7 linked regions of the Homo sapiens genome follow. The protein of the gene in region 5 purifies or fractionates together with the protein of the main gene of each other region. This does not show direct contact. Each region holds a gene or a part of one and is shown on either strand. Other genes may lie near its edges.

Region 1 (3,500 bases), about 35 Mb from region 5:
ATCAAAATGAAATTCTTACAATTTTTTTTTTTTTTTGAGATGGAGTCTGGCTCAGTCGCCCAGGCTGGAGTGCAGTGATCTTGGCTCACTGCAAGCTCCGCCTCCTGGGTTCACGCCATTCTCCTGCCTCAGCCTCCTGAGTAGCTGGGGCCACAGGCGCCCGCCACCACACCCAGCGATTTTTTTGTATTTTTAGTAGAGACGGGGTTTCACCGTGTTAGGATGGTCTTGATCTCCTGACCTCGTGATCCGCCCGCCTCGGCCTCCCAGAGTGCAGAGATTACAGGCATGAGCCACCACGCCTGGCCTCTTATAAATTTTTTTGAAAATTATAGAAAATTTACCACGCTAACTATTTGTGTTAGTTGCTTTGAAGAGAAAAAAGATACTCCCTTTCTCTTGGAGAAACGTACTCTTGTCTTTGTATGTTTGTTGTTGGTTTTTTACTAGATTCCATACCAGTTCTGGCATGTCAGATAAGCAGATAGCACGCCATTTAGGCTCTAAAGCAATACTTCACATCCCCATTTAGTCCTCGTTATTTATGAGGGATACCTTCCAAGACTCCTTTGGATGCCTGAAACCACAGCTATCGAACCCTATATATACTATGTGTTTTTCCTATACATACCTGTGACAAAGTTTAATTTATAAATTAAGCACAGGAAGAGATTAATAATAACTAATAATAAAGTAGAACAATTATAAATCTATACTGTAATGAATGTTATGTGAATGTCATCTCTTGGATTAGCATGTCTTACTGTATTATACTCACCTATTTTCAGATCATGGTTGACTGTGGGTAACTGAAACCACAGAAAATGAAACTGTGGTTATGCAAGTACTAATGTGAACTCAGGTTCCTTTTAATTGGTCCTTTTGGACTGAGAGCACATCATTTTTACTTTATTAAATCACTGTTCTGTAAATGTATTTAAGTATTGGCTTAAACATTGAGGTAACCGAATAAAACATGGTTTTTCTTTTTTGTAGAACATGTTCTTCAAGTATACATGGAATAACTTTTTGCATACACAAGTGGAAATTTGTATTGCACTGATTCTTGCAAGTCCTTTTGAAAACACAGAAAATGCCACAATTACCGATCAAGACTCCACTGGTGATAATTTGTTATTAAAACATGTAAGCTTATTTGGTCTCGTTTTTCTCCCACTCTCTCCTGGTTATAGCAGTTTTCCACTTGACTGTGATGTGAATTGAGGTTTAAAGGGCTTGAGGTTAGATTTCAGAGTCTAAATATTTGACAATCATGTGTTCGTTTCACTTTTAACATATAAATCATTATATAAATCAAGTACTGGACAAATAACTATTAAATGAACAGTCTTGTAAGAAAAAAGCTAAGTGGCCTCCTTATTTGGTAAAATTAATAGGTTTGAAGATATATAAATTCTTTGATGATTTGAAGAATCATAGAAATTTAAATACTATGGAAAACATTTGCACTATTATTTGGCTGACCAGAGTGTAGTTTCTTTGCTGAATACGTGACTGAAAGTCAGGAGAACTGAGTTCTTTGTGATGTTGAGAGTCTTCCTGGGGTCTCTTTTTCTCTTCTGTCAAATATGAGATAATTTTACTAAGTCAGTCTTCAGATTTTTTCTTGCTTGGTAGTTCTATGGTACTTTTAAAATTTCTAGCCCACACTTGGTTTACTCGCAAACCTAAAATGTAGAAAAGGCTAGCTTGGAACAGCCAAGTTGATGGGAAAGACAAATGACACCTGAGAAGAACTAGCCCTGCACATTCCAGTATTGCAGCCTACAGCAGTTGTCACTGACTTGCAGACTTTGGGCAAAACCCACCTGTTTTTAATATTAATGCAGTAATGTTAGTTCATCTGGAAGTAAGACGTGCTCACATTTTAAAAGTACAAGCATTACTTTGGATTCTAAGTTAAATTTTTGCCAAGGCATAGTTTTCTTTATTCCATTTTAATTTAGCTCAGGTTTTATATTTCTGTTCTGAATTTTCACAGCTAATAAAACCTGGCTTTCCTTTATAGTTAACTATAGGTAGTTAACTGCACTACCTATAATACTGAGTTTCCTGTAGATGTTCTGTGGAGGGTGTGGATCCTGATTTGAATCTCTGTAGTGTTGTGGGTGTCTGCAGTAGATTGATGATCACATTGCATTTGGCTTAGTAACATTTAGCTTGCTAGATTATGCATACTACTATTCTCTTTAACCTAGAGTTCTGTTTCACTTTAAAGTTTTGATGCTTTGAAGTATTAACTGGAATATTCTTTTTTTTTTTTTCAGCTTTTCCAAAAATGTCAATTAATAGAACGAATACTTGAAGCCTGGGAAATGAATGAGAAGAAACAGTAAGTAAATTGTTTTTTTGAAAGGAATTCAGTTTGGTTGGTAATATGAGGAAAATAATACCTCCTTGCCCTAGTCAGAAAAAAATGGAAATAATTACATGATACTGGCCATTTTACAATTTAAACTTTTCCCCAGATTATTTCATTGTAACAGTTGTTTTTATAATACTAATAATTTCTTGTTAGGTCCTCTTGTTTTTGGGGCAAAACAAGTGAGTTCGGAGTGTTCCCCACCTCTGTGCTGCCTTTGAAACTTCCTGGTCCTTTTTGAATGGCTACTGTTCTAAGAGTTATAAGGTTAAAGTTAAGTCCTTGATGATGTGACTTAGTGTATTTGTCCTGGTCACCTTATGCTCAGAACAGAAGGTATCACGTACATATTTTCATTGTAGAGAAGAGTTGCTTTGTACAGGGACCTAGAGGAAAAAAATTGCTCAGTGTTTTCTTTTTAGAAAATGTTTGTTAGCTGATTGGCAAGGTTATGTGAAGTATTAGTTGATACATGTAAGTAGCTTTGTTACACAAAACGTTTTCTTACAGGTGTTGTCTGTAACAGCATTCCTCTCTAGTGCCCTGGAAGCCTTTATGTCACCCCGTAGATTCTGAAGCATGGTGGCATAAGGGCGTGTTTGGGAAACACTCTGAAGGCATGCTTCTGTGTTTGTTTTTAAGACAGGTTTATTGAGATATAATTCTCATATGGTAAAGCTCATTTTAGGTGTACATTCCTAGGAATTCTGACTGATGCCTGAAGTCACCATCACCACAATCAAGACATTTCTGTCACCCCCAAAATTTCTCTCATGGTCCTTTGTAGTTGATCATTTCCCAGCATTCTTGTTATGTGTCTCTGTGTCTCCAGGAAAGCTAGATGACTCTTGGGAGTCAGCCTTACTTTGTGAGGTTTGATTTTTTTTTTTTAAATCGTTTAATAAGCACTGCTACTAGGGTTTTGATTTGGCTTCATGTGGGAAATTGGCATTTTGTTTGTTTGTTTGTGGCAAGGGGCTAGTATTGGTAGACCTCAGATACATTCTTCCAAATGGAGCTCTTTGGAGATGCTGTTTGTGGCCCAGTTGACATCTCTGGTTATATGTCTGACTCCGTCTTGGCTTCTCTGTGTCCTTCCCAACCTCCAGTCTTCTTG
Region 2 (3,500 bases), on a different chromosome or scaffold from region 5:
TTTTTTGTTTGTTTTGTTTTTGTTTTTTAGAGACAGGGCCTCACTCTGTCACCCAGGCCAGAGTGCAGTGGCATGATCATAGCTCACTGCAGCCTTAAACTCCTGGATTCAAGGGATCCTCCCACCTCAGTCTCCTGTGTTGCTAGGACTACAAGTATGCAGCACCATGCCCAGATAATTTTTTTGGTTTTTGTTGAGATAGGGTCTTGCTGTGTTGCCCAAGCAGGTCTTGAACTCCTGGGCTTAAGTGATCCTCCCACCTGGACTCTCAAAGTGCTAGAATTATAGGCATGAGCCACTCTCCCTGGTTTATTACTTTGAAGTTGCAGGGATGGGTGGAGTATAGGTCCCCACTTTATGGGTCCCCATTTAACCTATAGTGACATAATTTCCAATGCCTAGACCAGAACTTTCTGAAATTTACAGTTGGGTTGGGCAAAAATATAAATAAATATATAAATAAATAAATACATGAATAGAGAGGGAGAGCCAGAATAGTTGGAGATAATTTGGGTATTATAATATTGTGGATTTCTTGATTTACCTAATAGTAAAATAATTTCTTATTGACATACTAAAAATGTGGAATAGTTTTCCTTCTTGCCTCTTTTACCAACCAGAATATAAAGCATGTAGGGAATTATGTTGAAATAATCAATTCATGTTTTTAAGCAATCTCTGAGAAAAATGTGCTTTATTTAGGATAACCTAAAATCATAGAATCACTTTGCATAATGGGCTATCACAAATGATATAAAATACTCTATTTTTTATATGTAGTAAAATATTTTCTCTAGTTTGAGATCATACTAGGAGAGAAAATAATCTGAAAATAGAACATTTATAGAGATTTCAGAAAATATATAGAGTTACTGGGTTTCTTTAAAATTGGAAGAGGATCATACAGATAAAATTTTACCAGTGAGGAAATTGAGATTTGAGTGTTCTTCAGTTTCTTCATTCAGGTAGTATTTATTGAGCATCTACTATGTTCTAAGCACAAAATGAGTTTAAAGATAAATAAAATAAGTCCCTCAAGCAATTTTCAGCTAATAAAAGAAGACACGTATGTGAAACGATTGTTAGAGGTGTTATGCTATGATATGGCACATGATGGGAGAGAATGAAGGAGTGTTGGTCTAGTCTATGCAGGAAACCCAGAAAGTCTTCATATAGGAGGTGATATTTACACATTAATAGTTTAAAGATGTCCATCAGATGGAGAGAAAATAGACAACAGATGTGAAACAGTATGGGATTCAGAAAGCTGCAAATAGTAAATTGTGGTGGGAGGGTGGGATGTGTTCAGAGGTGAAATTGAAGAGGTTGGTGAAGGAGTTTAGATTTTATTCAGTAGCAGGGTCTTTAGATTGAAGTAAGAGTACCTTGGGATCATGGAAATTTATAAAAGGTTGCTTGGGAACAGATGATTTTAAGTAAATCATTTTCCACATGTACCTGTGAAAGTGCCTACTTTCTCACCCTGCCTTCTCCCACTTTATCTCTGACACGTTTGTAGTCTTATTATAGTAAGTTGCTTCAAGGTGTAAAAAAAACCTCCCCTTTAATCAAAGTGTTGTAAATTCCTCCATTCGTTTTATTATTAGTTTTCCAAATTTTACTTTTTGTTTAATTATCAAGATTTATGATATATTTATGTTGTTTTCCTCACTTATTTACATAAAATAATTGTAATAACTCAAGCAAGAAGAAAAATGTTAATACTTAAGAGTCTTATCACAGGAAAATGTTTTCTTAATTCATATCCTTTTTTGCAGAGAGAGTTTTGTACTGATAATAATAAAAATCTGTGTTTATTAGAATAGCATTCTGTGGAGGAAGTAGAATAGAAATAAGTATTCAAGGAGAATAAAGGACTTGTAAAAACTGTTGAGAAGGTCAGCATTTTTTTTTAATGGATGTCGGTGGGTATCATTTCCCTATAGTGTTTAGAATCCACTAAGTTTTAAAAAGTAATAATAGTTTTATGTTTAAATGTACATGTTTATAGTATAACAGAAATTACATATTTTTTGCAAGAGATACATACTAAAAAATTCTTTTGGGGCATATATGAACAAAAAATTTGAAGGTCATTCTCCTGTAAGACTCAGTGATTCCCAGTCTTGTCTTTTCTTTTTTTTGTTGGCATAATAGCGTACATAAGAAAAATGAGATATGGACCCCAAACAGCTAAAACAATTTTGGAAAAGAAGAAACAAGTTAGAAGATTCACACTTTCTGATTTCAAAGCATATTGCAAAGCTGTAATAACCCAAACTGTATGATACTGGCATAAAGACAAACAAACCAATGGAATGGAATAGATAGCTGATAAGTAAACCCTCACATACATGGTCAAGATGATCTTCAGCAAGTGTGCCAAGAGCATTCTTTGGGGGAAAAGACAGCTTCTTGAATATATGATGTTAGAGGAAATGGCTATCCATATGCAAAAGAATGAAATTGAATCCTTATCTTATACCATATACAAAAATTAAATAGATTAAAGACCTAAATGCAGCACCTAACACTGTAAAACTTTAGAATAAAACATAGGAGAAAAGCTTCATGACATTGGACTTGCATGCTTTTGGATATGACACCAAAAGCATAGGCAGCAGAAGCAAAAGTGGACAAATGGGGCTACACTAAGCTTAAAAACTTTGTGCATCAAAGGACACAATCAACAGTGTGAAAAGGCAGTTTTCAAAATGGGAGAAAATATTTGCAAATCATGTATCTGATATGGGATTAATATCCAGAATATATAAAGAATTCCTGCAACTCAATAACAACAACAAAAAATCAACCCTATTTAAAATGAGCAAAGGACTTAAGTAGACATTTCTTCAAGGATGATATACAGATGACCAAAAAGAACATGAAAAGATGCTTAACATCACTAATCATCAGAGTGATGCAAACCAAAGCATAATGAAATGTTACACCTATTAGAAATGGCTACTATAAAAAAAAAAAAGTATCAGGATATGGTGAGGATGTGGAGAATTATAAACTTTTGTGCATTGTTGGTGGGATGATAAGATGGTACAGCCATTAAGGAAAAAATAAGAGTTCCTCAAAAAATTTTAAAAAAATTATATGATCCAGCAATATCACTTCAAGGTGTATATACAGCAGAATTGAAAGCAGGGTCTTGAAGAGATGTTTGCACACCCATGTTCATAGACAGTTCACAGTAGCCAAGAGGTGGAAACAACCCAAATGCCCATCGATGGATGAATGGATAAACAAAATGTGGTATTATACACACAATGGAATACTGTTTAGCCATTAAAATCAAAGAAATGTCACATGCTATAACATGAATGAACCTTGTTAAATTATGCTAAGTGAAATATTCCAGTCACAAAAAGACAACTACTATATGATTCCACTTACATGAGGAAGCTAAAGTAGTCATTTATAGAAACAAAAAATAGAATGGCGGTTACCAGAGGCTGAGGAAAGGGAGAACGGGAATTGTTTAATGATAC
Region 3 (3,500 bases), on a different chromosome or scaffold from region 5:
CCTACCCAGGCCAACTTTGGATCCACCGGTGGAGTGCCCCGTTCCCGTAACATAGCAGGTGCATGACGGTCAAATGGCTCTGAGCTTGAGCCCCCACTGTCTGAACGCTCTCGGGGAACTAGGCCTGAAGAAACCAAAGAAAAAGAAAAATAATCCTATTCATGTCACAAGCCCTCCAGCCCAAAAAGCATCTCCCCTCGCGGTCAAGTCAGCTCTTCCATCTCTTGTTCCCAGTAGGTCCGGGCCTTGCCTGCTCTTATATAACAAGGTTATCCACTCAGATTCCCTACAAGAGAATCAACCCACCCCAAATAAATCCTGGCAAATGAAGGACCACTGCTTCTTTCATTCATTCATTCATTTTTGAGATGGAGTTGTGCTATTCATTCATTCATTTTTGAGACGGAGTTTCGCTCGTTGCCTAAGCTGGAGTGCGATGGCACAATCTCGGCTCACTACAACCTCCACCTCCTGGGTTCAAGCGTTTCTCCTGCCTCAGTCTCCCGAGTAGCTGGGACTACAGGCGAGCGCCACCACGCCGGCTACTTTTTTGTATTTTTAGTAGAAATGGGGTTTTACCACGTTAGCCATGGTGGTCTCGAACTCCTGAACTCAGTTGATCTGCCCACCTCGGCCTCCCTAAGTGCTGGGATTACAGGCGTGAGCCACAATGCCTGGCCAACCACTGCTTATTTCTTAACTAAGCCCATTTTTGCAACAGAGCTATCTCAGCAGTGCCAAGCATATGCCCTTCCCTCATCACTATGATGGGCAAAACCTATCGTACCAGAGTCACAGTAAGACCCTAATATCCAATGCCTAAGACTGAGGGGACTTTCCTGTTTCTCACTCCTCCCATGCCCCCTTACCAGAGGGATGCACACCAGGAGGGTAGAAGTCTAGAGGGGGACGACCCTGGAGGAGCCGGGGGTCCACATAAGGAGGAATCATCATCCATCGGGGATCAAAGTTCATTGGGGGCATGGGTGGGGGCCGGCCCAGAGCACCTGGGTACAGGGCCTTGGGGGGCGGGGGTGGAGCCTGTGGAGCTGGCACAGCCCCCAGGGTCACAGGCTGTGGTGGTGATGGGGGCACTGGGGTAGGAGGGGCAGAGCCCTGTTGATGCTGCTGCCACTGGTGCTGCTGCTGCTGCTTCAGGAGCTGCTCCTAGGAAAGGAGGAAAGACAAGATGAGAGAGGCTCAAAGCACACATGGACAAAGGAATCAGCAAAGAAAAAACTTGGACTAGGGGAAATTGGCGTGACAATGGAGACAACTGGACAAAGAAGCAAAGGGACCCAGAAGGTAACTTATGAAGAGAATTAGGGACCGAAGCCAGGAAGAAAAGCAGCCCTTAGAGGGTAAACAACTTGATTTCACCTGCTGCTGCCGCTGGAAACGAGGAGGCAACGACTTCTGATATTTGGGGTAGCCCAAGCCCTGACTAGGGGGCTGGCGGGTGGGACCAATCCCATCACCCTTGGGTTCCACCTTTGGAACTGGGGGTGTGGTAGGAGGAGGAACCTCTTCTGGTGGTTCAGGACCCTCTTTTGAGGGCAGTTGTGGTTCCACTGCATCGGAAAAAACACAACAGAGTGATCTAGTCCAACAATAGACACTCCATGAACACCCCAGGAATCTCACGTCTCATCTCTAGCTCCCTTAAGACTAAAATATTCTATTCAACATCTATTCTATTGAAGCCCCTCCCATTTAAGACCCATTAAAGCACTTCATGGCCTCTCATGAGCCTATGGTGGTGGCATTAACTTTCTATGAAACCATTAGAACAACAGTACTTTCTTCAGTCTTGGCCTATAGGAAATAGTTTTCATTTTTATTTATGTATTTCTTGTGAGACAGGATTTTTTTTTGAGACAGAGTCTTGCTCTGTCACCCAGGCTGGAGTGCAATGGCATGGTCTTGGCTCACAGAAATCTCTGCCTCCCGGGTTAAAGCGATTCTACTACCTCAGCCTCCCAAGCAGCTGGGACTACAAGCACATGCCACCACACTTGGCTAATTTTTGTATTTTTAGTAGAGACGGGTTTCACTATGTTGGCCAGGCTGATCTTGAACTCCTGACCTCATGTTCTGCCCGCCTCGGCCTCCCAGAGTGCTGGGATTACAAGTGTGAGCCACCATGCCTGGCCGACAGGGTCTTGCTTTGTTGCCCAGGCTGGTCTCAAACTCCCTAGGCTCAAGCGATCCTCCACCCCAAGCCTCCCTAAGTGTTGGGATTATAGGCGTGAGCTACAGTACTCTGCCAAGAAATGGTATTAGACTACAACCTAAGATTCCAGACAAAACCTTCCCTCCTTCAGATATACAAATGATAGAACACTATCACTGATAGTCCAATAAACCAAAACAACTGCCTTCTACTTCATTTATCCCCAGCCTTACCACCCTGCACCTTTAAGCACCTTGAAGCAGTGATCTGACATCTGGTAGTACCTATCCCCATCTCCATACCTGGGCTGGCTTCGAAGCTGCCACTGCTGGTGCTACTGGTACTGCCACCACCACTCACCAGAGTGGGAGCCGCAGCCACACCTGGAGTAGGAGTAGATTGGGCAGGAGGGGCCTGTGCTGGCTCTTCAGGTTCTGTCTCTGGTGTTGGGGCTGATGCTGGAGGTGGAGCTGGAGGTGCAGGGAGTTCTTTAGGGACTGCAGGTGGTGGAGCTGGGGTAGAAGGGGCAGCAGGTGGGGCAGCAGGCTCTGCTTTGAGCCGCTTGTCAGGTGCCCCAAACTTTTCATCGAGTCGCTTGAGCTTCTCAGCACAGGCTGCCCGGCGCTCTTCTTGCATGCGCCGCTCCTCTTCTTCTCGCCGTCGCCGGGCCCGCTCCACTGCCAGGGAAATCTCAGATGACGACTGCTTTCGTCGCTGCCGCCATGCCTCATCCTCATCTTCAGGTGCTGGGGGCTTGCAGGGAGGACCCCCACGATCCTGTCAATTGGCAAGACCCAGCAGGGCCAGGGGAATCAGTTACTATGCTTTCTATCATCTCTTTTACAACAAATCAACTGTCGCTACTTGCAGGATGCAACGACCCAGGCTTTGGGGTTGATCTCTCTGGGTGGTGACAAACTCATTATCCTGGTCTTCTTTGAGACCACGTCTTGCTATGTTGCCCAGGCTGGTCTTGAACTTGGGCTCAAGTGATCCTTCTGCTTCAGCCTGCTGAGTAGCTTGGACTACTGATGCATACTAACAGATCCAGCTATCTAGCCACCCTAGTCTTTTTATTTTTCTGTTCCCTCTCTCCTTCCGAAACCCAAACACCCAGGGCTCCTTTTTCTTCTTTCCTCATTAGCATCCCAGTTTCTCACTTCTTACCCAGACTCCCCTATTACCAAAGATATTTAAAAGCTTCCCAGGATGTTCTGCAGCCTGGCACTTCACACAGCCCATTTTTAGCACCCCCCTTCCTCTATATCACAACCGCTTCAATTACTCAGCTGACACCAATTTCCCACAGCTGACCCTCTCAATCCCT
Region 4 (4,198 bases), on a different chromosome or scaffold from region 5:
CTGTTTTTGTTGTTTGTTGTCTTAAGCCCTGAGGTATTGGTAATTTGTTACACAGCAATAGACAACTAATATATTCAGAACGTAAAGCATTTTGAATTGACTATGGAGAACACTAAAGTTCGTTTTTTTTTTTTTTTTTGAGATGGAGTCTCGCTCTGTCACCAGGCTGGAGTGCAGTGGCGCGATCTTGGCTCACTGCAACCTCTGCCTCCTGGGTTCAAGCGATTCTCCTGCCTCAGCCTCCCAAGTGGCTGGGACCACAGGCGTGCGCCACCACGCCCAGCTAATTTTTGTGTTTTTAGTAGAGACAGGGTTTCACCATGTTGGCCAGGATGGTCTCCATCTCCTGACCTCAGGTGATCCGCCCACCTCAGCCCCTCAAAGTGCTGGGATTACAGGTGTGAGTCACCGCACCTGGCCGGAGCACACTAAAGTTCTTTAAGCTACAGCTCAATACTTCCCTTCTAAGAAGTTACAAGAAAACATGACAGCAATGTCTTATCTACAAATAGTTTTGCCGCCCTAGAACATGGCTCTTCAGGGCTTCCTGCTGCCCATTCTCAGATACCATCACACTGATGCCATAAATTATGATGATATTTAGAGAAGATATTTGCATTCAGTTCCTAACAGGTTTGGTTTCAAAGGAGTTAACTGATACTTTAGTCATATTTGCATGCTTCTTCCTAGCACTGATTTCTAATTAATCACCAAATCTGGTCATTTTTCCTTCCCAACATCTCCTCCCCTTGCGCTTTCCCCCTCCCGCTGACCCCAAGCCTGGCTTGGGCCCTTACCTGTCTGTCCACTGCGGACTCTCCCTAACTTCTGTCTCCAGCCCTCTTCAATCCACTAAGTTGCCTTCATAGTACTCTCCCATGGCAGCTTAATAAAACCAGCCACAACTCTCCCTTATTTAGCGAAGCAAATTTCACAGTCCTTGGGCTAATATTCAAGATTACAAGAAATACAATCTGATTTCAAACTACTCTTGTACTCAAGAAATACAATCTGATTTAAAATCACTCTTCAGAAAATTACATACGCTTTTGGTCACAGCATTCGCTACTTCATTTACCCTTTCCCACCTAGAAAGTCAAGGAATTCCGAACTTCCTTCTAATTCCTAACTTGATTTCTAACAGTAACAACCCAAACTCCTAAGAATATGCTTCTACACTAACCCAAACTCTAAGAATATACTTCTACACTATTTTTACATTTATTAATTTTGGCTGTATCTTCTGACTTACTGCTATGATGAACATCAGTTCATTTACTTCTGCTCTTCTAATATATTTATAATCACATTTTTTCACGCCTCTGTTGGTAAGCATAACTTTAAGTAACAGACCCACACCTCTATCTCTCACTCCATCACCATAGCCATTCCCTTTTGACTTTGGGTCCCTGACCTTTCCTTCCACTCCTCTCATAATCCCTATTTTTCAGACCTGCAATACACACCACCTTCAGTCAAACTGTCCCCCGGAACATCTTTTGTCCTCCACCATGCTATCCTCCATACTGTTGAGTTCACTTTTCCAAATTGCATTCCTCTACGATCCAGTCCAAACTCCTCTGAGAAGGGGAAGACTCAATACAAAATGGTAACTCCCTCCCTGAATTCCTGGAGCATATATTAGTTGTTCCATTAATCTAACCACCAATTATGTATGTTGCGATTTTTTTCTGGCAGTTGTATTTAACTTTTCATTTGTGTAAGGCAGAAAGTTGTTTTCCTAACAAGACTCTAAGACCCCTGTCTCAGCATTTCCAAATCTACTTAGTAGAGTGCAGTGACTTGCATATATTGGATACTCTGTAACCGTGTTTACTGATGAATGCTAATATGAAAGCCTCTTCATATGAACCTCAAAAAGCTGAAAGTCAACTACTCTCTTAGTTTCCCAGCCTGGAAGATCAGATTACTTCATAAAAGTCACACAGGCCTGGATTACAGACCAATGAAACATCCAAAGGAAGGATACTTCTAAGTAAACATACAAACTTTACTGGGGAAGCCGCCTGATTAAAACCTTCCCCGGCAGAATCATGTCCAAAGTGAAGTACAAGGTCTGCTTAAACAGCTTATTAAAAGAAAAAAAAAACAGCGAAAAAAGCGCATCCCTATTGAAAAGATATTTTACTAGCTCCCGTGTCTTAACTTCTTAACTAAGAAACGAAAAGAGCCATACATCAGGTTGAAGTATCTGGGATTCCCGGACGAGGTGGAGGGCAGCGGAGGAAAAACACCGAGAGGCTGCGCTGCAAGGGACGCAGGGAAAAGCAAGCCTGGGGCAGGTCTGAGTTCCGAGTTCCCGACTGCTCCCTCGTGGTGTCTGCGACCCGGTAGCGGGAGCAAGTGAGGTTGTTGGACTGCAGTTTTCCCCCTACAGTGGCGATGCGGGGCCGGGGTCGCGGGTATGAGGAGATGGGGTGTGAGCCGGGGTGCGCCAGGGCAGAGCGCTTCGCCCACCGAGACGGGCAGGGCGGCTCCGGGCACTGGCCGGGCGGGGCAAGGAGCTCCTAGGCCGCCAGGTCCCTCTCTGCTGGCTCCGCGGAGTCCGCCCGGGGGAAGGGAAGGTCGGGGAGGGCCGGGCTTCTCCGAGTGGCCGCGGGGGCTGCGGGACAGGTACTTACCCGGGTGCCATTTCAGGGCCAGCTTCCGATAGGCCTTCTTGAGCTCCTCCTCGCTGGCGTCGCGCCGCACCCCCAGCGCCTCATAGTGACACTTCATCGCCCGACCGGGCGGGCGGCCGGCGCTGGGGCCCGGGACGGGGTCGGGGCCCGGGCCCGGGCCGAAGCGGCGGCGGCGGCGGCGCTGGCAGTCCTCTCCGGCGGGAGTCCGCCGCCCGCACCGGGCCAGCCAGCGAGCCCGGCGGCGGCGGCGGCGGCGGCGGTGGTGTAGGTCAGTGAAGGCGCGCGGTGGCGGCAGACGACGCAGGCTGCGGCAAGCGGGAGCGCGGCGGGGGCGGTGCCGGCGGCCGCCGCTTCGCATGGGCTAGGGGTGGGCTCTGTGCCGGAAAGGGCCGCGCGGGAGGGGGTGGGGCCTCGGCGGGGTGAGAGGCGAGGCCCCGAGGAAGGAAGGCGGGGCCTTGGCGAGGAGAGAGGCGGGCCGCGCAGGAGAAAGGCGGGAGCTTGGCGGGGAAAGAGGCGGGCCGCGTGGGAGGAAGGTAGGCCTTGGCCGGGAAGAACAGGAGGAAGGCGGGACCTTGGTGTGAGAGGCGGGGCCTCGGCGGGGCGAGAGGCGGGGCCGCGCGGAAGGGAGGCAGGGCCACGCTGGTGTCATTGTGAGGGGCACAGATGGCGGTCAGTGTGAGTGGCAGCCGACCTGAGGGCTGAAGGGGGAGATAGGAGCTGGGATGGGAGAGGATTCTGGAAAATATCTGATTATAATTTCTCAATGGATCCCCGTTTTTATAGATAAGGCGATTCAGACTCCAAGTGGTCAAGTGGTTGGCTCAAGCCTCCTCAGCTAATACAGTAGCAGAATTCGGTTGGACTGAATATCAGGTTTTTTTTTTAATCTCTTTAATTCTCTTCAGCTGCCACTTAAGATATCTGGTATTGATCATCTTGACCAATATGCTTGAGAAAGGACAGTTAGATTATTTAAGCGGAAACAATTTAAAAGGGAAGCATCAACACACTTAATGAAAAGCCTTACCACCAACATGGATGAAATTGTGCTGATCTATCCATCCAACACACTTTAATCCTAACTTTCTGGCCTCTAATCCTACCTTTCCAAGATTGGTTTAGGTTAAGAAAGCAGTTAAAGGATAGTATTTAACTGGTAGGTTTTGGTTGATCTGACTATCTGCACAATTATTCCAAACACTTTGAAAGGTATCAAAATAATACCATAATTATTAAAATGCATTAATACACCAATATATTTCACTGTAATGTGGAATGTTTACATGCATCAGTTAGGTGTGGGTTGTATTTACTAACCATGTATGGTTAGCTATGTTGCTAATATCTATTGCACAGGGTTGGCGTACCCAAGCGGTTTAGTAAGGTTATCCTTCTCTTCCCCAATATGCTGCCCCCAGTAAAATAAAAAACCCACGCTAAGCTTCATCAGGTTACTTCACACGCCACTGACCAACCAACTCACTACTCAGAATTCATACACTTCCCTTTTTTCCAGAGGAAGATTCTACACAGTCTCAGTTAGTTGGTAAATTGGT
Region 5 (3,500 bases):
CCAAAAGTGTTAGGATTACAGGCATGAGCCATTGTGCCCGGCCGGTAAGGATATACTTCTACCACCAAGAACTTAAAGAGTGGCACACCAATGAAACAAATTTTCATTGAGAAACGAGCACTCTACCAGGCCCTGGAAGACTGGTTAAAGCAGAGGCTGAATGAACACCTGTCAGGAATGCTGGATTTCTGAACGCTAAGAATGGCATAAGAATGCTAACCTAGGCCAGGTGCAGTGGCTCATGCCTGTAATCTCAACACTTTGGGAGGCCAAAGTGGACGAATCTCCTGAGGTCAGGAGTTTGAGACCAGCCTGGGCAACATGATGAAACCTGGTCTCTACTAAAAATACAGAAAATTAGCCGGGTGCGGTGGTGGTTGCCTATAATACCAGCTACTTGGGAGGCTTAGGCAGGAGAATCACTTGAACCTGGGAGGCAGAGGTTGCAGTGAGCTGAGATTGCGCCATTGTACTCCAGCCTGGGCAACAAAAGCAAAACTCCATCTCAAAAAAAAAAAAAAAAAAAAAAAGGATGTTACCTAAGGTTCCATTGTAAGATAATTTTTCAAGCAGGTTAAGTATCCAGGAGTTTAGTTTCACAAGCCGTTTGTCCAATTTTTTAAAAAAGATAAAAGCCAATCCTGTAAAAACCTTTATTCCTTGTCCAAGGTTATAATTATGCAGGTAAGTCTGAGTGAATTGAAGCAGCTGACTCTAGTAGGAAAAAGAAATGTTAACAAGTTCCAGCATCACCTACTTTGAACTATATTCTTAAAAAGTCTAAAGCTTCTAGATTTGAAAAGCAAATTACCATAAATAATCTTAAAGGGCATCTTTCAAAATATTAGTTGCTTTAACCAAGCTATTCCTTAGCATAATTCTGTACAACTTATTTATATTAATACATTCCTTGGGAGTTAAATGTAAAAAAATTACATCCCCACCATCACTGTTTTAATACTTTTTCGTTTTCTAAAACAGCACAGACTCCTGCTACATGAGCAAGCTTTCAGCATTTGAAGATAGCTGCCATGGATCATCTATAGATTGCAATGTGTTCTTTCTACCGTCGTCCTTTTAAAAATTGAGGAAACTTTTGCTTACTATCTTTCCTGTCCACAATGTAAAAAGAAGTTCAATGTAACTCAAAGTGTAAGCCCAAAGGGTTTTTTAATGACTAAAATATATTTCAGTTATTTCTATGTTTAGATAACAGTATTGAGGGGGGCCAGGCACAGTGGGTCAACCCTGTAATCCCAACACTTTGGGAGGCTGAGACAAGAGGATCGCTTAAGGCTAAGAGTTCAAGGTTGGAATGAGCTATGATTGCCCTGCTGAACTCCAGCCTGGGTGATAGTGAGACCCTGTCTCTAAAAAATTAAAATTAAAATATTTTTAGAACAGTATTGAGGAGAATGCAATGAAATTTCCAATAATGTACAATGGTTCTAATAATAAGAATTATCTGTGTTCTCTTAAGACCATTCACATATCTTGCTAATGCTACCCAGCTTTTTTTTTTTTTTTTTTTTTTTGAGATGGAGTATCACTCTGTTGCCCAGGCTAAAGAACAGTGGCGCGATCTCGGCTCACTGCAACGTCTGCCTCCCAGGTTCAAGCAATTCTCCTGTCTCGGCCTCCCAAGTAGCTGGAACTACAGCTGCATGCCACCATGCCCAGCTAATTTTTCATATTTTTAATAGAGGCGGGGTTTCACAGGTTGGCCAGGCTGGTCTCGAACTCCTGACCTCAGGTGATCCACCTGCCTCAGCCTCCCAAAGTGCTGAGATTACAGGCGTGAGCCACCATGCCCAGCCTGCTACCCAGCTTAAAAAAAAAAAAAAAAAAAAAGTATTCTTCTACTTGCCTACTCATCAACTCTACACACCTGTAAAAAGTAAAAAACCCTTCAGGAAAAAAATCAATTTCAATAAAAAAACACTGCAAGTAAATAGTTCTGTGCAAAAAGCATTTCCTCCCTAACCCCATGGATTAATCCATTTTAACAGGGTTGTTAATGAAGCTACAGATATTTCTATGTAATGATTTGGCCAAACTACCAAGTACTTATTCAGCATATACCATGTGTGAGAAAGCGCAGCAAAGTAATGTTAATAGTCTCTGCCCACAAAGAGCTTATTACCAATTTAGAAAAACATGTAAGGTTAACAACACAAGGCAATATAAAAATGTCAAGAAGTTTTGGACGCCGAGGCAGGCAGATCACAAGGTCAGGAGTTCAAGACCAGCATGGCCAACATGGCGAAACCCCGTCTCTACTAAAAATACAAAAAATTAGCCAGGTGTGGTGGCATGCACCTGTAGTCCCAGCTACTCAGGAGGCTGAGGCAAGAGAATCACTTGAACCCAGGAGGCGGAGGTTGCAGTGAGCCAAGACCACACCATTGCACTCCAGCCTGGGCGACACAGCAAGACTCCGTCTCAAAAAAAAAAAAAAAACAATGTCAAGAAGTGTACAGACAATAGGTAACAGGGGAAGTTAAAGGAAACAAACTACTTTAGCTGAGCATGGTCAAGAAGCACACCCTCCCCTTTCCTCAGGAAGTTTGAATTTTGAACTCTACTCAGTAAATTATCTTTCACCCACGTTTTTGTACTCATAGTCTATCTAACAAAAGCACTGTAGTAGAGCTAGTGAAAGAAAGAAATAAATGAGCTAAAACAAAGCAATTTACAGTTCCAACTTTGGATGAATTTCTCTTCTGCTACTCCTCTCACTCTTCTATACTGTATACACACACACCATTCATTTCCCCCAGAAAAAGGAACCAACTACCAAAAAATACCCAGAAGCTTGGAATACAGTAATTTGGATGAAAAGGTTGTCACACTTCTTATTTCTCTCTACTGGTAATGCTTTTTCCAGATTTTTCCGGTCTACAACATACCAAGCTGGAGTAGAGTCTGACAAATGTACATAGGAAGCTAAACATAAAGAAAAACTTCAGAGTTTTAACTTTATAAAAGTTTATTTCATTACAATATGGATGTCCCAATGATACCTGACACACTGGGATTTTACCTTACCGATATTCTCAGAACCCCATTACCCGGACAATGCAAACACAAAGTTCAACAATGAGACATTAATAAAAGTCTAATAATAAGGAAATGGAAAGCATTTTTCTTTTGCATTCAGTTTTTTAAAACAGAAAAACTCTAAGGATTTGAAGCAAAAGGCTTTACTTGATTCTACATAATTAAACATGAAAACTACACTTAGGCCGTGGAACATTACAAATTCTAATTACTCCCATAAAACATTATTTAAGAGGCCGGGTGTGGTGGCTCACGCCTGTAATCCCAGCACTTTGGGAGGCCAAGGCGTGCAGATCACTTGAGGTCAGGAGTTTGAGACCAGCCTGGTCAACATGGCAAAACCCCGTCTCTACTAAAAATACAAAAATTAGCTGGGCGTGGTGGCATGCACCTGTAATCCCAGCTACTCGGGAGGCTGAGGCATGAGAATCACTTGAACC
Region 6 (3,500 bases), on a different chromosome or scaffold from region 5:
AGACATTATAGAAAATAGCTGTTCTGCAATCTTCAAAAGTGAGAAGGCCATGAAATACAAAGGACTAAATAAATGTTCCATACTTAAGAAGACTAAAAAGACATGACAACCAAATGCAATATGTGATTGGTCAGAAATAAAAATTAATGGGGCAACTGCTTTTGAAAATTCTATTAATATTATGGTTACCGAAGATGTTAGCAGCTGGGAAAGATGGATGAAGGATATAGGGGAACCCATCATACTACTTTTTCAATTGTTTAATAAGTCAAATTATTTCAAAATGAAAAGTTAAAAAAATTGAAAAAAGTATTTGAGAAAAAAAGAAAAGGCCTATATATCATGTTATACTTATTAGAATTTTTCCCTATTGGTGATCATGCAAGAAAGTTAGACCAATTAAGCACACAGAAGTCAGAAGAGAGATGGTTCAGTTTAAGCTAACCGTTTAAGTAATAGGGTTGAAGGTGGAAGCTAACACTTTTTCTACAAAAAATAAATTAATAAAAAAAGCACAAGGGACCATAAACCATTTCAATGCCCATTTAGTAACTACATTTGCTGTTCATTCTACTGAAAAAAACCCAACATACCTTCCACTCAGCAGAATATCTCATCACAATTGCTCGGCACTGATTGTTATACTCTGTAATCCCCATTTTGGCCACATCCTCTGGTCCTCTGATTCCCAGTGTCTTATCAATTTCATATTCCTGAAAATTTGTGATAAGACTGTTACCACGCTGCCCTATGAAAACAACTGCAACTATGCAACTCTAGAAAACAAAACAAATCAAACTACAAATATTATAGAAATGAACTAGAAGGTCTGACAGTCAACGTTCATCATACTTGAACATATTATATGACAAAATCTAATGCTTATAAAAAAAATCAGAAAATTATAAAGCTGGATACTCAAACATACCACAGGTAAGCCATGGCAATCCCATCCAAATCTTCTGTCAACATGAAACCCACTCTGGTGAGCATATCTTGTAACTATATCTTTAATTGTACCCGCAAGTATATGTCCATAGTGAGGCAGTCCAGTTGCAAAAGGAGGACCATCATAGAAGGTAAATCTAACAGGTAATAAAAATATATCAAGCCATTTAAAAACAGCCAAAATTTAAGGCATTTTTCTATAGATAGCTCTTGTCATAGTGGAGTCTTCAAGGAGAAAAGCAGCAAGATCAGGAAACCGACAGACATAATTGATTTGATATTTACTGGTGGTCCTGCCTTCAGAAAGGCTACAATTGTGGTAGAGCTACAGAGACCTCCATTTGATTATCCATTTTTCATTTATTAGTTCCATGACATAAGGCAAATTATTTATCCTGATCTTGAGTTATCTCATCAGTAAAATAGGGCAATAAACCCCTATCTCATAGTTTTTGACCAGAGGAGACATATAATGAAAACACTGATTAAAGGACTAGTCTTTTAGGTGAATGAGGACTAAAGGCAGGTAGTACTATAGTAGCCTTCTATGGGGTACTTAGGTATAAGTGCCTAAACGAGGGTGGTGATGAAAATAAAGGTGGAAAGAGGGTGACACGGAGGATGACACATAAATTTTACTCAGATGACCTTTTAAAGAAACAAAATTTACCCCAATAATTGAGAACTCATTCATTCAATGTATATCTACTACTGAGTACCCACTACATAGGGAGCTGGGGGATTCTGGGAATAGAAAGATTAATAAAGAGTATCTGCTTTAGGCCGCGCGTGATGGCTCACACTTGTAATCCCAGCACTTTGAGAGGCCGAGGTGGGTGGATCACTTGAGGTCAGGAGTCCGAGACCAGCCTGGGCAACATGGTGAAACCCCGTCTCTACTAAAACACAAGAATTAGCTGGTGTGATGGCGGGCACCTGTAATCCCAGCTACTCGGGAGGCTGAGGCAGGAGAATCACTTGCATCCGGGAGGCAGAGGTAGCAGTGAGCAGAGATTGCACCACTGCCCTCCAGCCTGGATGACAGTGCGAGACTCCATCTCAAAAAAAAAAAAAAAAAAAAAGTATCTGCTTTAATGGAATTCAGTCTAAGAAATGACTATTCTTAAGGGAACTTAACCTAAAAAATTCACATACTTTGGTTTATGTTTTGATTGCTTTAAGCATTCCTGAAAACAATTAAATTCAGTCCAAAACTCCAAGATTTTCTCTTCTTCAGCAGGAAAATTTATGTTTTCTGGAACTTGTTGAAGCATTTTGTTGCTGCAAAAGAAATCAAATTTATTACTGTCAAAAGAGAAATCTAGGAATAACAGAGTACCATATTATTAACATGGGTGTACATGACACTATCCATACTTTTAAAAAATTACAGCTTTATTGATGTACAATTTACATAGTGTAATGTAAAAAGTGTACAATTCAGTGGCTTTTTAGTATATTTACAAGGTAGTATAACTAGTAATACCTAATTTCAAAACGTTTTCAACCTCCCCTCCCCACCAAAACACCCCAAAACCATTAGCAGTCACTCCCCATTCTTTCTTCTCCATAGCCAGTGGCAACGATTTATCTTCTTTCTGTCCCTGCAGATTTACCTATTCTGGACATTTCATATAAATGGGAAAATTTATAGGAATCATCTATATGTGGCCTATTGCATCTGGTTTCCTTTCTCTAGCATGTTTTCAAGGCTCATCCATGATGTAATATGTATTCATACTTCATTACTTTTGATAGCTGAATAGTATTCCATTTCATGAATATGCCACATTTTGTTTATCCATTCATCATTTCTTGGATACCTGTATTGTTTCCACTTTTTGGTTATTACGAATAACGCTGCTATGAACATTCACATACAAAATTTTGTGTGGATCTATGTTTTCATTTCTCTTGGGTTTGTAGCTAGAAGTAGAATTTCTGGGTCACATGATAATTCTGTATTTAACTTTTTGAGAAAATGCCAAAATTTTTCCAAAGTGACTGTACTATTTTACATTCCCTCAGCAGTGAATGAGGATTCTAATTTCTTCAGATCTTACCCAACACATCTTATTGTCCATCTTTGAATTACAGTCATTCTAGGAGATGTTAAGTAGTATCTTGTGGTTTTGATTTGCATTTCCCTAAGGACTAATGATGCTGAGCATCTTTCCACATGCTTATTGGCCATTTGCGTATCCACGTTGGATAGATATTTATCCTTTGCCTATTTTCTAATTGGGCTCTTTTTGTGGTTGGGTTTTAAGGGTTATGTATACATCCTGGATACAAATCCTTTATCAGATATATGATTTATAAAAAATTTCTCCTGTTCTGTGGGCCGTCTTTTTATTTTCTTGATGGCATTTTTTGAAGCACAAAGATTTTTCATTTTAATGATGCCCAATTTGTCAATTTTTGGTTTTGCTGCTTGAGCTTTTGGTGTCATCAATAAACCATTACCTAAACAAGGTTATAGATTTTTCGCTTACATTTAGGCCACAAATAATTTTATTTTCGTATATGGTGTGAGGGAGGGGTACATGGCT
Region 7 (3,268 bases), on a different chromosome or scaffold from region 5:
TCCACTCAGCAGGGCAGGACCGAGCCCTCCGGGAAGACAACGTGGACTCTCTGGGGTGGTTCTGGCCCCCCACCCCCAACCCCGAGACCACAGCGGCGCCACAGGGCGGCCCAAGAAGTAGGCAAGACAATGAGGTGGCAGGGCCGAGCTGGAGGGGCGCGGCCTCGGGTGTTGTCGCCCCTGCCCGGCGAAGGAATGCAAACGCGCCTGCGGGGCGCCTGGCCGGGTTGCGGTTGTGGACGAATGGCGTGCGAAGGCGACCCCATGAAGAGATCGTGGGGAAACCACAAGCCGGGGCGAGATGTGGGGCAGGGGCTACACTGCCGGGTAAACTGAGGCCCCAGTTCAGCGACGGCCACGCGGAGGGGGGGCGAGTGGGCCCAGAGGGGGTCACGGGCCAGGGGAACGCGAGCCAGGCCAGACTCAGACGGCGACCCTGGGACGGTGGCCATGGCAGGCCGAGACGCTGCGCGCGAACGCACACTCGGAGACGGAGCAGCTACAAAACTAGGCCTGGTTTATTGCCGAGAAGGGAGAACCGGGGCCGCCGTTAGGAATTAAGGCCACAGGCGGCCCTCGTGCTTTGACGAAACAGCGACTTGGAAGCCGGGGAACCCCGCCCCAGACTGTGCAAAAAGTGCTGCTGCGGCCGCAGACGCCAGTGCTGGCCCTCAGGGCGGCCCCTCAGCCGGCGAGGGGCGGGACTTCCGCCCGCCAATCCCTGAGGGGGTAACATCGCCCGCCAATCCCTGAGCTGGGCAGGGTGGGCCCCGCTCACCCCCCTGGGCTGCCCACCCCGGGGTGTTCCCGCCGACTTCTGGGCGGGGCCTCCCGGGCCAGGCCTGCCGGGGGCGGGGCCCGAGCAGCCGGACTGGCCAGGTTCAGCGCGCCTCAGTAGGGTTGTATTCCGTCTCTCCCGAGGACACCTGGGAGATGCGCCGCGAGGACCGCCACAGCTTCCGCGCGAACTGGCTGCTGCGCACCTGGTGGGCGTAAGGGTTGAGTAGGATCAGCTGGGATCGCCGCGCCACGCCCCGCCCCGTTCGAGGGGCCTCCCCACCCCCGCCCCATCCTCACCTCAGAGGGCTGCCCCGCGACCACCACGATGAGCTTGCCATCCTCCAGGCCCACCAGCACGTGGCTGCGCTCCTTGGTCACGGCCACGCTGCGGATGGCCACCTTCATGGGCAAGGGAGGCGCGGCCGGGAGCAGTCTGGAAGGGAGAGGGGATATACACCAACTTGCGACTGCAAGGGGGCTTTGCGACCAGCAGATATCCCTTATCCCATATACCCTCTCTGTCCTCATTTTAAGGATGGTTAAATTGAAATTCTTATACACAAAGAAATCTCCCACAACTGTGGCTAAGCGGAGGCCCAGGGCAAGACCTCCCCATGGGAAGATGAAGGGACAGGTAACAAACCTTGAAATATGTGCCCACAAACATGTATGGTGTGTGGGTTCCTAGGGCCTTTATCCTACACCAATGACCACCACCTTCAGGGGCCATGAACCCATAAATGGGGGGCTTACGTGTTTAGTTGGAGGATGTGCAGGGCGCACTGGGCGGTGCCCAGCAACACAAAGTCCTCTGTCACCGTCAGGGCTGTAGGCTGCTCTGCCAGGGGCAGTGAAGCCCGCAACTTCCCATTGACTGAATACAGGTGCAAGGAGTAGGTGACCTGGAGGAAGCAGGGAGTGTCAGCAAGGACAGGATCCCAACTGCCCCTCCATCTTTGCTGGGCACCCCTTCCCCATACCTGGGCCCCAGGACGTTCCCACGCTGAGCTCTGTACCACAATCTGGCCTTCGGACCCCAATGCCAGGTGGAAAATAGGTCCAGGGAATGTGGCACCCAGAGGCCGTAGTGCCGCTACAAACTGTCCGCGGCGTACAGTGTGTATGATCACAGTTCCATCCTGCAGGAAGGCAACTTAGGGTCCTGGGCAGGAGTCTGGGCTCCAGGGGGATTGCCCAGGAAACTCACCCTCCCCAGGGCACATGCATACACACACCTCAGATCCAGACACAGCCATGTCAAGTTCAGTGCTGATGGCCACACAGCTCACTGCAGCCCCATGCCCATACAGGACCTGCACAGGCTTTGGTGCCAGGCCTACTGACAGACCACCCTGTGGAGGACCAGGGTTGGCTTAGGACTGTCCCCTGAGGCTCAGGAAATGAAGGCCTTGTCCAAGACTAGAGGAGGACAGGACTGGAAGGCCACTGAGGGACGGATGGGCTGCAGGTCTGGGCTACGGGGGCCCCACAGAGCTGCCCACGAGGCACACCTGATGCAGGAGCCGCCACACCATGCACGTGGTGTCCCGGGAGCCTGAGATGAGGTAGATGCCACAGGTGTCCAGTGCAAGGCAGGTTACTACATCTGCATGGGAAGGGGAGGGTACAGGCAGAACGGAGGAGTCACATCCGCCCTGGCCAGCCTCAGAACCCGGCCCCATACCTGTGTGCCTCATTCTCCCCAGCTCCAAGGCTGTTCATACCAAGGTGGCAGCTGAGCTGGCTCAACAGCTTGCCACGGGGTAGTGCAGTCACCCGCAGGCTGCCATCCCAGTGGCCACCGCTGAATAGCAGCTTTCCATCCGGGGCCACTGCCAGTGCTTGTCCACTCACACCACTGCCTGGCACCCACGGGCCACTCAGCAGTCGCTGCGTCCTGACCCAGTGAGGGGGATAGCAAGTGAGGCCAGGCCACATGGAAGAGACCCAGGCCCTCAGGGAGCCTGGCCAGACCTTTCCCCTGCAGCTGGCCTACATTCTGATTAGGGAGGGGAATAATTCCGGGTGCAGGGCATTTGTAGCCCACCCCACCCACAGCCCTCTGTCCTACTTGTGGCTGCCCATGGTGGGGTCTTTGCTGAAGCTGAAGTAGTTGCTTATGTTGCGGTCATAGGGCAACCAGCTGTGGGTGCCCAGCAGCCCACTGGCACTCACAGTCACCTGCAGGCAGGAGGGGGCAGAGGTGGGTTTCTGGCAGAGGCAAGGGGGAGTGGAGCTGAGCTGGGGCTCTGCACAATGCACTTACCAACAGGTCTGGGGAACCCTGGGTGATGAAGGAGTGGGGCTGCCGGTGGGGGACCAGGGCTAGCACCAGGGGTACACCATCACTGACAACCTGCAGGGGCAAGGGCAGGCCTAGCTATGCCTGAGTACTATCAGATTACACTATCTGCTCCCTGAAGCATCATCCCTTCCTTTACTGTCAGTCCCCAGGGGTCATAGAGTAGGTGTCACAGATGCAGAGGTT

The links.
Region 1: the proteins of CAPRIN1 (region 5) and PPP6R3 fractionate together in Homo sapiens (co-fractionation; one large-scale study listed by BioGRID). This does not show direct contact.
Region 2: the proteins of CAPRIN1 (region 5) and RAB3GAP2 fractionate together in Homo sapiens (co-fractionation; one large-scale study listed by BioGRID). This does not show direct contact.
Region 3: the proteins of CAPRIN1 (region 5) and PRRC2A purify together in Homo sapiens (affinity purification with mass spectrometry; one large-scale study listed by BioGRID and IntAct). This does not show direct contact.
Region 4: the proteins of CAPRIN1 (region 5) and DNAJC21 fractionate together in Homo sapiens (co-fractionation; one large-scale study listed by BioGRID). This does not show direct contact.
Region 6: the proteins of CAPRIN1 (region 5) and IARS1 purify together in Homo sapiens (affinity purification with mass spectrometry; one large-scale study listed by BioGRID and IntAct). This does not show direct contact.
Region 7: the proteins of CAPRIN1 (region 5) and NBEAL2 purify together in Homo sapiens (tandem affinity purification; one large-scale study listed by IntAct). This does not show direct contact.

Annotation. Positions count from the first base shown.
Region 1 is NC_000011.10:68,568,752-68,572,251, forward strand, and holds part of PPP6R3 (serine/threonine-protein phosphatase 6 regulatory subunit 3), read left to right. Parts: intron 1-996; coding exon 997-1,146; intron 1,147-2,288; coding exon 2,289-2,353; intron 2,354-3,500.
Region 2 is NC_000001.11:220,262,454-220,265,953, reverse strand, and holds part of RAB3GAP2 (rab3 GTPase-activating protein non-catalytic subunit), read left to right. Parts: intron 1-3,500. UniProt on the Homo sapiens protein: Regulatory subunit of the Rab3 GTPase-activating (Rab3GAP) complex composed of RAB3GAP1 and RAB3GAP2, which has GTPase-activating protein (GAP) activity towards various Rab3 subfamily members (RAB3A, RAB3B, RAB3C and RAB3D), RAB5A and RAB43, and guanine nucleotide exchange factor (GEF) activity towards RAB18.
Region 3 is NC_000006.12:31,627,215-31,630,714, reverse strand, and holds part of PRRC2A (protein PRRC2A), read right to left. Parts: intron 2,951-3,500; coding exon 2,476-2,950; intron 1,572-2,475; coding exon 1,381-1,571; intron 1,168-1,380; coding exon 870-1,167; intron 125-869; coding exon 1-124. UniProt on the Homo sapiens protein: May play a role in the regulation of pre-mRNA splicing.
Region 4 is NC_000005.10:34,928,361-34,932,558, reverse strand, and holds the start of DNAJC21 (dnaJ homolog subfamily C member 21), read right to left. Parts: upstream 2,740-4,198; coding exon 2,643-2,739; exon of another isoform or gene 2,198-2,642; intron 1-2,197. UniProt on the Homo sapiens protein: May act as a co-chaperone for HSP70. May play a role in ribosomal RNA (rRNA) biogenesis, possibly in the maturation of the 60S subunit. Binds the precursor 45S rRNA.
Region 5 is NC_000011.10:34,058,231-34,061,730, reverse strand, and holds part of CAPRIN1 (caprin-1), read right to left. Parts: intron 1,254-3,500; exon of another isoform or gene 540-1,253; intron 1-539. UniProt on the Homo sapiens protein: mRNA-binding protein that acts as a regulator of mRNAs transport, translation and/or stability, and which is involved in neurogenesis, synaptic plasticity in neurons and cell proliferation and migration in multiple cell types.
Region 6 is NC_000009.12:92,287,198-92,290,697, forward strand, and holds part of IARS1 (isoleucine--tRNA ligase, cytoplasmic), read right to left. Parts: intron 2,230-3,500; 5' UTR 2,223-2,229; coding exon 2,104-2,222; intron 1,086-2,103; coding exon 929-1,085; intron 777-928; coding exon of another isoform or gene 714-776; coding exon 594-713; intron 1-593. UniProt on the Homo sapiens protein: Catalyzes the specific attachment of an amino acid to its cognate tRNA in a 2 step reaction: the amino acid (AA) is first activated by ATP to form AA-AMP and then transferred to the acceptor end of the tRNA.
Region 7 is NC_000003.12:47,006,934-47,010,201, reverse strand, and holds the end of NBEAL2 (neurobeachin-like protein 2), read right to left. Parts: intron 3,137-3,268; coding exon 3,047-3,136; intron 2,962-3,046; coding exon 2,852-2,961; intron 2,678-2,851; coding exon 2,505-2,677; intron 2,387-2,504; coding exon 2,292-2,386; intron 2,133-2,291; coding exon 2,016-2,132; intron 1,920-2,015; coding exon 1,761-1,919; intron 1,683-1,760; coding exon 1,534-1,682; intron 1,214-1,533; coding exon 1,078-1,213; intron 984-1,077; coding exon 882-983; 3' UTR 501-881; downstream 1-500. UniProt on the Homo sapiens protein: Probably involved in thrombopoiesis. Plays a role in the development or secretion of alpha-granules, that contain several growth factors important for platelet biogenesis.